3 linked regions of the Homo sapiens genome follow. The protein of the gene in region 1 interacts with the protein of each later gene in a pairwise test. Each region holds a gene or a part of one and is shown in the gene's direction. Other genes may lie near its edges. The genes, in order: SH3RF1, FGD1 and MAP4K3.

Region 1 (3,653 bases):
GCTTTCATTTCTCCATAGCACAGTCATACCTCCTTTCTCCCTCTTTCCCTGTTGCTGACTGTTAGGGGCTGAATTATGTCCCCCAACATTGCTACGTTGAAGTTCTAACTCCTAGTACCTCACAATGTGGCCATATTTGGGGATAGGACCTTTAAAGAGGGGGTTAAGGTAAAATGAGGTCACATGCATGGGCCCTAATCCAGTAAGACCAGTGTTCTTATAAGAAGAGGAGATGAGGATGCAGACACATAGGGAAGACCATGTGAAGACACATGGAGAAGATGCCACTTACCAACCAAGGAGAGTTGCCTTCAAAGGAAGCCAACCCCACTGACACCTTGATCTTGGACTTCCAGCCTCCAGAACTGTGAGGAAATACATTTTTGTTGTTTAAGCCACCCAGTCTGTGCCCTTGGATGTAGTAGCCCTAGCCAACTTGTACTCTGACTGTAGACATACTCCTAAAGGTCAGCCCCTTGAGTGGCCTCTCGGTCCACTGCCAATCCCTTCAGTCCTGGTTTCCCCAGAAACTGGCAGTGGTCCAGCCTTCTGTGTTCTGTCATGGAATACCTTTGAGAAGTTGTTCAGCCCCTCCCTACTCCCTCAACTACCCACATTGCCTGGCATAATTTCTTAAAATAGACAGGCATGTTATAAGGAAGTTGAAGTTTATGTGACAGTATACCAGATGCACAGAAAGTTCTGGAGGAAATGAAGGAAATATTGAGAGGGGAAAACTACTACTTTCTTATCTCTGACAAATTGGATTGATCTGTAGCTGGAGTCTGGAGAGAGTGCTTTCCAGGACTCAGTAGTACCTAAGGCATTACTCAAGGGATAGGTAATGATGGACAAACCAGATACAGATCCTTACTTGGTGCTTTCCAGGGCTAAGTAGCACCCTAGTAAGGCATTCTAGGCTTTATTCCAAGGAATGGCATTGGCAGAAAGAATTGAAGGAAGTAGTGGGAGAAAGTTAGGACAACTGAGTTGCTCCAGGTTTGGTGTGGAAAGCAACTGCCAGCTGTGAACTGTGCCGTGGGACATCTTTGACATCCATCTATGAACAAGCACCTGTAGAGAGCTTTCAGGTCCAGTTATGTTCAATAATCTATACTAGGTCAAAGATGACATTAATGCATGTTTCTGTTGAAAAAGTTTACATTTGGGGGAGGTAACACACAAGAAACAACAAGTAAGGCAGCAGATAGTGAAGCATCAGGGGGTGGGATAAGATATAGAATAAGTCTCTATCTATGATGGGGTTCTTTTTTGTAGTTCGTGGTCCTTGGATTAAGTGCATGGTCAAAGAATACCAAGTGTGGACCAGAGTGGTTGGGACATGCTCCCCTGGCGTGTAAGGTTCACTACAAACACTGACGGACAAAGGAGTTGTTGTCTTCGCACAGATGGGGATGGGGATGTGTATTAACTCATACCGGACCCAAGCAAGACATTTAATGTGGTGGTTTGGATGAGGGAAATGTTTCTGTGTGTTTCAGAATGATTGAATTAAAACGGAAAAGGTGGGTTTTGTTTGTTTGTTTGTTTTGGCTAAACCATGTTTGTTGCATGCTTGACCTCTTATTTTATCCATCCTTGATCCTTACTCCAGGCTTCATGTCTGCCCCATCCCTGACCTTTACTTCATTCCTGAGCTAGGCTTGATGGTGAGACTCGGAGATGAGATCTTGAACAGGGTAGAAGGAAGGTATGGGAAAGGGGGTCTGTGGTGCATACTAATTGATAATTTTTTTAAAAAAGTAATGATTCTTTTTTATATCACATAAAGTGTCATGTAACCATAATCATGTAAACCTCACAACAGCTTTCTGGGGTCAAGTGTTATCATTTTATTTATTTATTTTTTTGAGACAGAGTCTCACTCTGTCACCCAGGCTGGAGGGCGATGGTGAGATCTCAGCTCACTGCAACCTCAGCCTCCTGGGTTCAAGCGATTCTCCCACCTCAGCCTCCCAAGTAGCTGGGATTACAGGCGCCTACCGCCATGCCTGGCTAATTTTTGTACTTTTAGTAGAGGTGGGTTTTCACCATGTTGGCCAGGCTGGTCTCCAACTCCTGACCTCAAGTGATCCACCCACCTTAGCCTCCCAAAGTGCTGGGATTACAGGCGTGAGCTGCGGCACCCAGCCTAAGTGTTATCATTTTTAAAATGAGAAAGAATGTAGATTTCAAAATGTATGTAAAAGCATTCTGGTTGTAAAAAAAAATTCAACCATATAGAAGAATATGTTATTAAGTGTGTATATACTTGCAGATCTTTTCATATACATTTATATGTGTATGCATATAGTTTCTTGATTTTTTGCAGAACTAGAATTTCATGCTCTGGAGATTCAATGATTTGCTAATTCATTTACTATATCTATGAAATCTCTTCATGTTTAAGCACATAGACCTACTCCAGTTTTTGAAAAAACTCTTTATTGATGTATAATATACACATAGAAAAGTGTACTAATTATGTGTACCATTCATTTAATTTTTCATAGTATTTTTCTCATAGTATTTTTACTCATAGAATTTTTCTTCATAGTATTTTTCTCATAGCATTTTTCTTTCTGTTTAAAAAATACTCAGTGTAAGAAAAATACTCATAGTATTTTTCTTTGTTTTAAGAATTAAAAATAATACATGCTTATGGTAAGAAATGTAATAGTAGAAGATGATGTAAAGGAGAAAATCAAGGCTTCCAATATCTCTACTCCTTTGTTCCTAATCTCTAGGGGTAACCACTGTCACAAGGTTTTTTTGTGTTTTCTTTCAGACAAAAAATTGAATAGAAATGGAATCACATTGTATATGCAGTTCTGCAACTTGTGGTTTTTAATTTAATGATAAAACTTGGATAGCTTCCGTATCTACTCACATTGATCTATAAGAAGCTATTATGCATTCTTTTTTTTTTTTTTGAGATGGTCTCACTTCTGCCCAGGTTGGAGTGCAGTTGGAGTGTTTACGGCTCACTATACATTATTATTCTTATTTCATGGATGTAGGAGGGGTGGCTGAAAGACTTTAAATAACTTGTCCAATTTCTGATCCCAAATGCTTCCTTCCCTTACCTGCAGTTGACTTAAGTGACAAACATTTTCCCTGGGACCTCATGTTGCTTTTAGCAGGGGAATCTTTTCTCAGTTGCAGCTGGCAGAGGTTATTCTTTCCTCACTGTCCTTGCTTCCTATTTTGTTTTGACAAAAAGAGGACAAATAAAGCTCCTTTACAATGACAGTGGACCAGGAAAGCAGACTCTCCTTAGCTTGATGTATGGGGAAGAGTGTGGTTTGGAGGTCAGAAGTTGTGGCCTCTGGTTCCAACACTGCCATGGGCTGGCTGTGGGGTTTCTCTGGGCTTCATTTCTTCAGCTCAAAGATGCGGAGCCATAGGGACCTAAGCTCCATGCAGAGTGGTTGTGGGAATGGGGCTGGTGAGGGGGCTGAGTTTGGTCCATCTTTGACTTTTCAGAGCCCTTTGTAGTGTCTGGCACAGAGTACACACTCACAAGAGGTTTGTTGAATAAATGAGTGAATAAGTGAGTGGAGTACCAACCTCTCTAGGGATCCTTAGCTGTATATTTAATTTCATTTCTATTTGGGATGATGAGAACCAAAGTTACTGAAAAGATACCGAAA
Region 2 (3,653 bases), on another chromosome or scaffold:
TGGAAGTTGAGGAAGGTAGTACAGATTGCTGAGAAGTTGGGATTTTCTTTTTCATTTTTCTTCTTTTTTTTTTTTTTCTTGAGACAGCGTCTTGCTCTTTTGTCCAGGCTGGAGTGCAGTGGGGTGATCTCAGCTCCCTGCAACCTCCACCTCCCAGGCTCAAGTGATCCTCCCACCTCAGCCTCCCAAGTATCTGGGAATACAGGTGCACACCACACTGCCCAGCTAACTTTTATATTTTTTGTAGAGACAGGGTCTCACTTTGTTGCCCAAACTCATCTCAAATTCCTGAGCTCAAGCAATCCTCCCTTCTCAGCTTCCCAAAATGCTGGGATTACAGGCATGAGCCACTGTGCCCAGCCAGAAGTTGGGATTTCAAGAAGCAAAACTTGCTCATGAAACACAATTTCATCATTTTTAAGCACACTTAGCTGCACAAAATTGTAAACAAGAAAGTCTAGATATTCTCAGGGCCTTAACAAAAGCGTTGAAGAATGGTTTATACTCAGCATACCTATGTGGCTGTAGAAACAAGGGCTGCAAACGCATGTATAAACTTTAGGGTGCTCACAGCCACCCCCAGCCTGGTTAAACTCCCTAGTGATACTGCCTGCTGACATACATGGAATCAATGCACTAGTCACAAAGAATTCTTATCTATTGATGAAAACAGCCAGCCCCAGCCCTGGGTCTGGCTCTCCATCTGAGGGCTAGGATAGGGGCTTCCCAGAAAAACACTGTGGCCAGGAAAGGGGCTCAGAGAAACCCAATACCCCAGATAGCTGCTAAGACATGCCAGTCCTAACTTTAACCCCAGTCCCCTTTGGGTTAAAGTCAGTTACTTCACACCCATTTTCTCCCTTCCTGCAGGGCTGCACCAGGGAAACCGGATCCTGGTTAAAAGTTTGTCCCTTGACCCTGGCCAAAGCCTAGAGCCTCATCCAGAAGGTCCCCAGCGGCTTCGCTCAGACCCAGGTCCCCCGACTGAAACCCCTAGCCAGCGTCCTTCACCACTGAAGCGGGCACCGGGCCCGAAGCCACAGGGTAAGTGGTCCTGGAAAAGAGCAGAGAAGTGGCCCAGGGGAGGGTACAGAGGAGGGGAGAAGTTAGCCAGTGGCAGAGAAGAGGGTTTGTTAGAAGGATAGGGAGCCACCATGCTCCCAGGGCAGTGCTACCTACCTAGTGCACAGAGTGCTGTGGCCTGAGGCTAATGTGTGCATACTGTGATCTCACCTTAGCCCCTTTGTGTCTACCTCAGGCAAAGGTGCAGATTGGTGTTTGTGGAAGGGGTTGTGGCCTGGCCATGACAGCCAGCCACCTCCAAATCCAGCTTTTTTTTTTTTTTTTTTTGAGACAGAATCTCACTCTGTCACCAGGCTGGAGTGCAGTGACATGATCTTGGCTCACTGCAACCTCCGCCTCCTGAGTTCAAGCAATTATCCTGCCTCAGCCTCCCAAGTAGCTGGGACTACAGGCACGTGCCACCATGCCCAGCTAATTTTTGTATTTTTAGTAGAGATGGGGTTTCACCATGTTAGCCAGGCTCAAATCCAGCTCACTGATGTCTCCCTTCTCTCTTCCCCATTCGTCTCTCCAGTGCCCCCAAAGCCCAGCTACCTGCAGATGCCCCGGATGCCCCCCCCACTGGAGCCCATCCCCCCTCCACCATCACGCCCACTGCCTGCCGACCCCCGAGTGGCCAAGGGCCTGGCTCCCAGGGCAGAGGCCAGCCCCAGTTCTGCAGCAGTATCCTCACTGATTGAGAAGTTTGAAAGGTGAGTCTGGTCCCTAGGGCACCCTCTAGGGGAAAGGGGGAGCCTGGGACAGGAAGGGATAGTCAGGAGAGGCCTCTCAGTCAAGCTCATACCCTGCTTCCATGTGTGTCCACCACCCACCTCAGAGAGCCTGTGATTGTCGCCTCGGATAGACCAGTCCCTGGCCCCAGCCCAGGTCCCCCAGAGCCAGTCATGTTGCCACAGCCAACCTCGCAGCCACCAGTGCCCCAGCTCCCCGAGGGTGAGGCCTCCCGCTGCCTGTTTCTGCTGGCTCCTGGGCCCCGGGACGGTGAGAAGGTGCCCAACCGGGACAGCGGCATTGATAGCATCAGCTCGCCATCCAACAGCGAGGAGACCTGCTTCGTCAGTGATGACGGGCCCCCCAGCCACAGCCTCTGCCCTGGGCCCCCTGCCCTGGCTAGTGTGCCTGTTGCCTTGGCCGACCCCCACCGGCCTGGCTCCCAAGAGGTTGACAGTGACCTGGAGGAGGAGGACGACGAGGAGGAGGAGGAAGAGAAGGACAGAGAAATCCCAGTGCCCCTGATGGAGAGACAGGAGTCTGTGGAGGTACTGACCTGTGTTCACCGAGAGGCAGGTCCATGTGGAGAACCTGGAAGCGCCTTTTGTGCTTGATTCTTCCCCTAGCTCAGTATTTCTCGAAATAGGACCTTGTTTCCAAGCTCTGTGACACTGGGCAAGTCTTTTCCCTTTCTGCTTCCCTACCATAAGCCTCAGTTTCCTTATTTGTAATACGGAAAGTCTCTTACTTACATCCATAGAGACTTCTCAACAGCTGGAGGAGGGGCGCAAGAGCTAGAGCCCTGCAGGGGCCCGAGGCTGTGCAGATGAAGGCTCTTGGCAGCAGAGACCCCTTTCTGTGCCCGGGCAGCCTAACATTTCTTCAGAAGGCACCATCGCACTTGAGTTAGATCTCAGCCGGAATACTTGCTCTGCTAGGACCAAGCTCAAGTGTAGGGGCCAAAGCCAGGGACTGCCGGCATGGCAGGTAGTCAACACATATATCTAAGGAATAGGAAACTAGGCCAACAGGCAATGAGTTTTATACGTTCTTATACTTTTGTGCTTTTCTCACACCCCAGGTACTCAGCAAGCCCTTGCTGATAGTGTACTGAGTGGGTGAATAAATGATTAATTAACATTTATATACCATTTAATCTGTAGTCTGATGTGTTTTATTTATATTAAATTATCTAATTGTCTCCATTACCAATGGACTTCAGTCCTATTATTATTTTGTTTTGGTTTTGTTTTTGTTTCTCACCAGCCTCTACATTAAATAGATTCTATTATTATCTGTATTTATGGATGAGGCGTCCTAAATACAGAGCTGTTAAAGAACTTACACAAGCTAGTGAATGGCAGAGCTTAGGATTTGAACCCAGGAAGTCTGACTTACCATCCCACATGCTTAACCACTACACTCTGCTGAGTGAATAGAGAGAGCGGGTGAATGAGTTGTTGAGTGAGGGAGTGCACGTCATCAGAATGGAGGGGTAGGCTTTATGGTAGACTGGGGACTCAGGGATGAAGCTGAAGGACTTACAGATCTAGAGATGGGGGTCAAGGTTATCCTAGGGTGGTATTAGGCTTAGAGTGGCATGGGAACTGTTTTAAGAATTCTGGGGGCTTGGGTGAGGGTTACGATAGAGGATGATGGATCAGGGGTTACTGTTTCTCCTTTCCAGTTGACTGTGCAGCAAAAGGTGTTTCACATTGCCAATGAGCTCCTGCAAACTGAGAAGGCCTACGTTTCCAGGCTCCATCTCCTGGATCAGGTGAGTGGCCCCTTGGGGGTACGAGGGCCCCAGGACCTTGTAGGTGCGTTTCAAGGAGGCAGTGATAGGGCCTGAGTTCAAT
Region 3 (3,653 bases), on another chromosome or scaffold:
CTAATTAAAATATTGATGCCTAAAACCTATTCTGTTAATTGCTTACAGTAGATAACCATACCTTTCAGTTTCTCTAGTTTTATGTTTTGTAATTTTAAGGGCAGTTTTTCCTGATATGTATTAGGAGGGAAAATAATTAAAAGGTGCTACCTGATAACTTTTAGGGAGAGTAAAACTTTTGCTGACTCTCTTTTATCCCAGTAGTATATTAGTAACTATATTTATCTCCCCTATTAGCTTTGAGAAGTCTATCGAGTCTTTATGCTCGAAGAGTGTAATTTAGGAGGTATGCTGCATGAACTTGCGGTAAAAAGAAGTAAGGGAACTTCAGGAATGCCATAGTTCTCTCTTACATTCCTGAAAATTAAAGTTTTGTATACTGCTCCTAATGGTAAAATCCTCGACCTGGTCTGATACAGGCTTAGTCTCCCAAAAGTGTAAATGTGTTTGCCCGTGCACCACTGGAGAACAAATCCTTCAGGTAAGTGAGTGTCTTCCGTGAAAGCAAAGTGCTACTACATTCATGTATTCACATCACATGCATGCATGCTTCTGCAGAGAGATCCAACATGGTGAGTTTCATTTTGTAGGATTGCCTGAGAGCATGATGTTATTTTGAAGTGTGTCACCTTCCTTATTTTAAGAAAAAGAAAGTATATATAATTTCAGGTGTCAGGTATAAAATTCCAGGTAAAATTTGAATCCTGGAGACTCCTGGCTATGACCCTGCAATTATTGTTTTGTCAGTACTGTTGTGACATTCCATGGTGAGTTGTCTTCTGTTTGAATTGGTATTTTTCAATAAATATTAGGATTTATTTTGTTCATTTAAAATACATATATAAAGACATTGGCAACAGGAAAATAGAGGTATTTTATTAAATATAACTTGATGTTTTATGGTTGCAGAGGTGATCACTAGCAAATTTTCAGTAAATGGTAAAAAAGTAATCATTCAAAAAATGTATGGTTAAGGTTAAAATGATAAAAACACATTCGATATTCCTTTGATAATTTATTCACATTATTTTTTGTTTTTGTTTTTTCTTTTAAGGAGTCTTCTCAAGTCTGTTGAAGAAGAATTGCATCAGCGGTAATTTTAATTTTTAATCTTAAAGTACTTTATGTCACAGACAAGTAAAGTCAGTTTGCCTTCTTCTCTGTTATGTAGCCTATTTGTTTGCGTTGTCTTTTTTTTCTTTAATAGAGATAGGGTCTCGCTCTGTTGCCCAGGCTGGATTGCAGTGGTATGATCATAGCTCACTGCAGCCTTGAACTCCTGGGCTCAAGCGATCTTTCCACCTCATCCTCCCTAGTAACGGACATCACGATCCACCGCTCCCAGTTCCTTGTTTTAATTCTGAATCTATCCTATCCTATAAAGATGCAGAAATAAAATTTTATCTTACAGTAGCTTTTCCTGCATTTTCTAAAATTTCTTCTTACTGTTTTGGTAAAATCCATTTAATAACAATGACATTATCCTTTTTATTTAGAGGACACGTCGCACATTTAGAAGATGATGAAGGAGATGATGATGAATCTAAACAGTAAGTTCTGTCTCTGTTTTTGGTAAAAAGAAAAGGTGTCATTTGACCTGATTTCATCAATCTGGCAGCTTAATATTGATGGAAATTTCAATATCAGTAACACAATATCATGGGTTGTATCTCAGTTTCCTTCCTTTTTTCTATTCTAGTTACATTAACTTGGGCTGACATAACAAAATACCATAGACTTAGACAACAGAAATTTATTTCTCACAGTTCTGGAGGTGGGAAGTTCAAGATCAAGGTACCAACCAACTTGGTGAGGGCTGCCTTCTTGGCTTGCAGACAGCCGTCTTCTGGCCATGTCTTCACGTGGCCTTTCCTCAGTGTATGCACATGGTGGGATCAGGGGTAAGAGTGATCTCTCTCTCTCGTAAGATCACCAATCCATAGGATTAGGATCCCACTGTTACAACCTCATTTAAGCTTAATTACTTCCTAAAAACCCATCTCTAAATATAATCACATTGTGGGTTAATACTTCAACATGTGAATTTTATAGTGACACATTTCAGTCCATTTTTTCCAAAGGACAATAATTTTTTATTGTAGATTTATCAGTGATTGATAGCTGCTGTAATTTTACTACAACTACAAAGAAGCTTATTATAAATTTGATTAAATTTTAATCTGTTATATTTCAAGTGAACAAATACTTTGGATGTAAATATATAGTTTTAAAGGAGGAATATTTTTACTATTATGTATGCATTGATGTTTACTTTTTTTTTTTTAATAAAGATGCAGTTTCATGGTAAAATGATAAGAGCACTTGAGTAGCAGTTGAGGGCATAGGTTGATCTTGGGTAAAGTTACATAAACTTTCTAGGCCTTGAAATCCTCATCTGAGACATTTGTGCTTCATCATATTACAATTTTTTCTTTCTTTCTTTTGAGAAAGGGTCTTGCTTGCTCTGTGGCCCACCTGAAGTGCAGTGGTGTGATCTTGGCTCACTGCAGCCTCGACCTCCTGGCTCAAGCAGTCCTCCCACCTCAGCCTCCTGAGTAGCTGGGACTGCACCTCCACACTTCCTAATTTTCTATTTTTTGGTAGAGATGGGTTTCCACCATGTTGTCCAGGCTGGGCTCGAACTCCTGAGCTCAAGCAATCTGCTCACCTCAGCCTCCTAGAGTGCTGGGATTACAGGCATGAGCCACTGTGACCAGCCTCTTTCTGTTTCTAAAACTGATCCTGAGTTATAATGAATCCTAACTTCAGTCACATTCTGCATATAATTTCATAAAGCATATATATAGTTTTTGATGAGCTTCATCAAAGATGTTTCATATCTAACAGTAGCAAAAATGAAGTTTACAATGTGATATATTTTATACTGTATCATTTATTTCATAAGCCAGATGTGGCTTATGTTCTTAATTATTTACCTTTCAGTTGATATAAACTGGAATTATAATTATCTTTCCCAGTTTTAATTACAATATAGTACTTGGAACCAAGAAAGTGTATTACCCAATTACTTCTTTTTAAATTGAATTTAATTCTTTTAACTGAAATAATTATAATACAAATTTCTGTGGTACATAGTAACGTTTTGATACATATAATGTAGTGATCTGATCAGGGTAATTAGCATATCCATCATCTCAAACATTTATCATTTCTTTGTGTTGGAACATTCAATATCCTCCTTCTAACTATTTGCAACTAAATAACACATTATTGGTTTTTTGTTTTGTTTTGTTTTTTGAGACAGAGTCTTGCCCTGTCACCCAGGCTGGAGTGCAGTGGTGTGATCTCAGCTCTCTGCATGCAGGCTCTACCTCCCAGGTTCATGCCATTCTCCTGCTGGGACTACAGGCACCCGCCACCACACCTGGCTAATTTTTTTGTATTTTTAGTAGAGATGGTGTTTCACCATGTTAACCACGATGGTAGGATGGTCTTGATTTCCTGACCTCGTGATCTGCCCACCTCGGCCTCCCAAAGTGCTGGAATTACAGGCGTGAGCCACCACGCCCGGCCCGTTATTGTTAACTATAGTCATCCTACAGTGGTATAAGAGAGTAGTAATACTTACATACTGTAAGTATTTACATAACTGTAATTTTGTATTCTTTAACAAATCTCTCCCTTTCGTCCCC

What was found.
Region 2: the proteins of SH3RF1 (region 1) and FGD1 interact in a two-hybrid assay, tested with the Homo sapiens proteins (one large-scale study listed by BioGRID).
Region 3: the proteins of SH3RF1 (region 1) and MAP4K3 interact in a two-hybrid assay, tested with the Homo sapiens proteins (one large-scale study listed by BioGRID and IntAct).

The regions. Positions count from the first base shown.
Region 1 is NC_000004.12:169,260,885-169,264,537, reverse strand, and holds part of SH3RF1 (E3 ubiquitin-protein ligase SH3RF1), read left to right. Parts: intron 1-3,653. UniProt on the Homo sapiens protein: Has E3 ubiquitin-protein ligase activity. In the absence of an external substrate, it can catalyze self-ubiquitination. Stimulates ubiquitination of potassium channel KCNJ1, enhancing it's dynamin-dependent and clathrin-independent endocytosis.
Region 2 is NC_000023.11:54,468,705-54,472,357, reverse strand, and holds part of FGD1 (FYVE, RhoGEF and PH domain-containing protein 1), read left to right. Parts: intron 1-870; coding exon 871-1,044; intron 1,045-1,597; coding exon 1,598-1,775; intron 1,776-1,900; coding exon 1,901-2,342; intron 2,343-3,481; coding exon 3,482-3,571; intron 3,572-3,653. UniProt on the Homo sapiens protein: Activates CDC42, a member of the Ras-like family of Rho- and Rac proteins, by exchanging bound GDP for free GTP. Plays a role in regulating the actin cytoskeleton and cell shape.
Region 3 is NC_000002.12:39,290,670-39,294,322, reverse strand, and holds part of MAP4K3 (mitogen-activated protein kinase kinase kinase kinase 3), read left to right. Parts: intron 1-1,054; coding exon 1,055-1,093; intron 1,094-1,496; coding exon 1,497-1,550; intron 1,551-3,653. UniProt on the Homo sapiens protein: Serine/threonine kinase that plays a role in the response to environmental stress. Appears to act upstream of the JUN N-terminal pathway.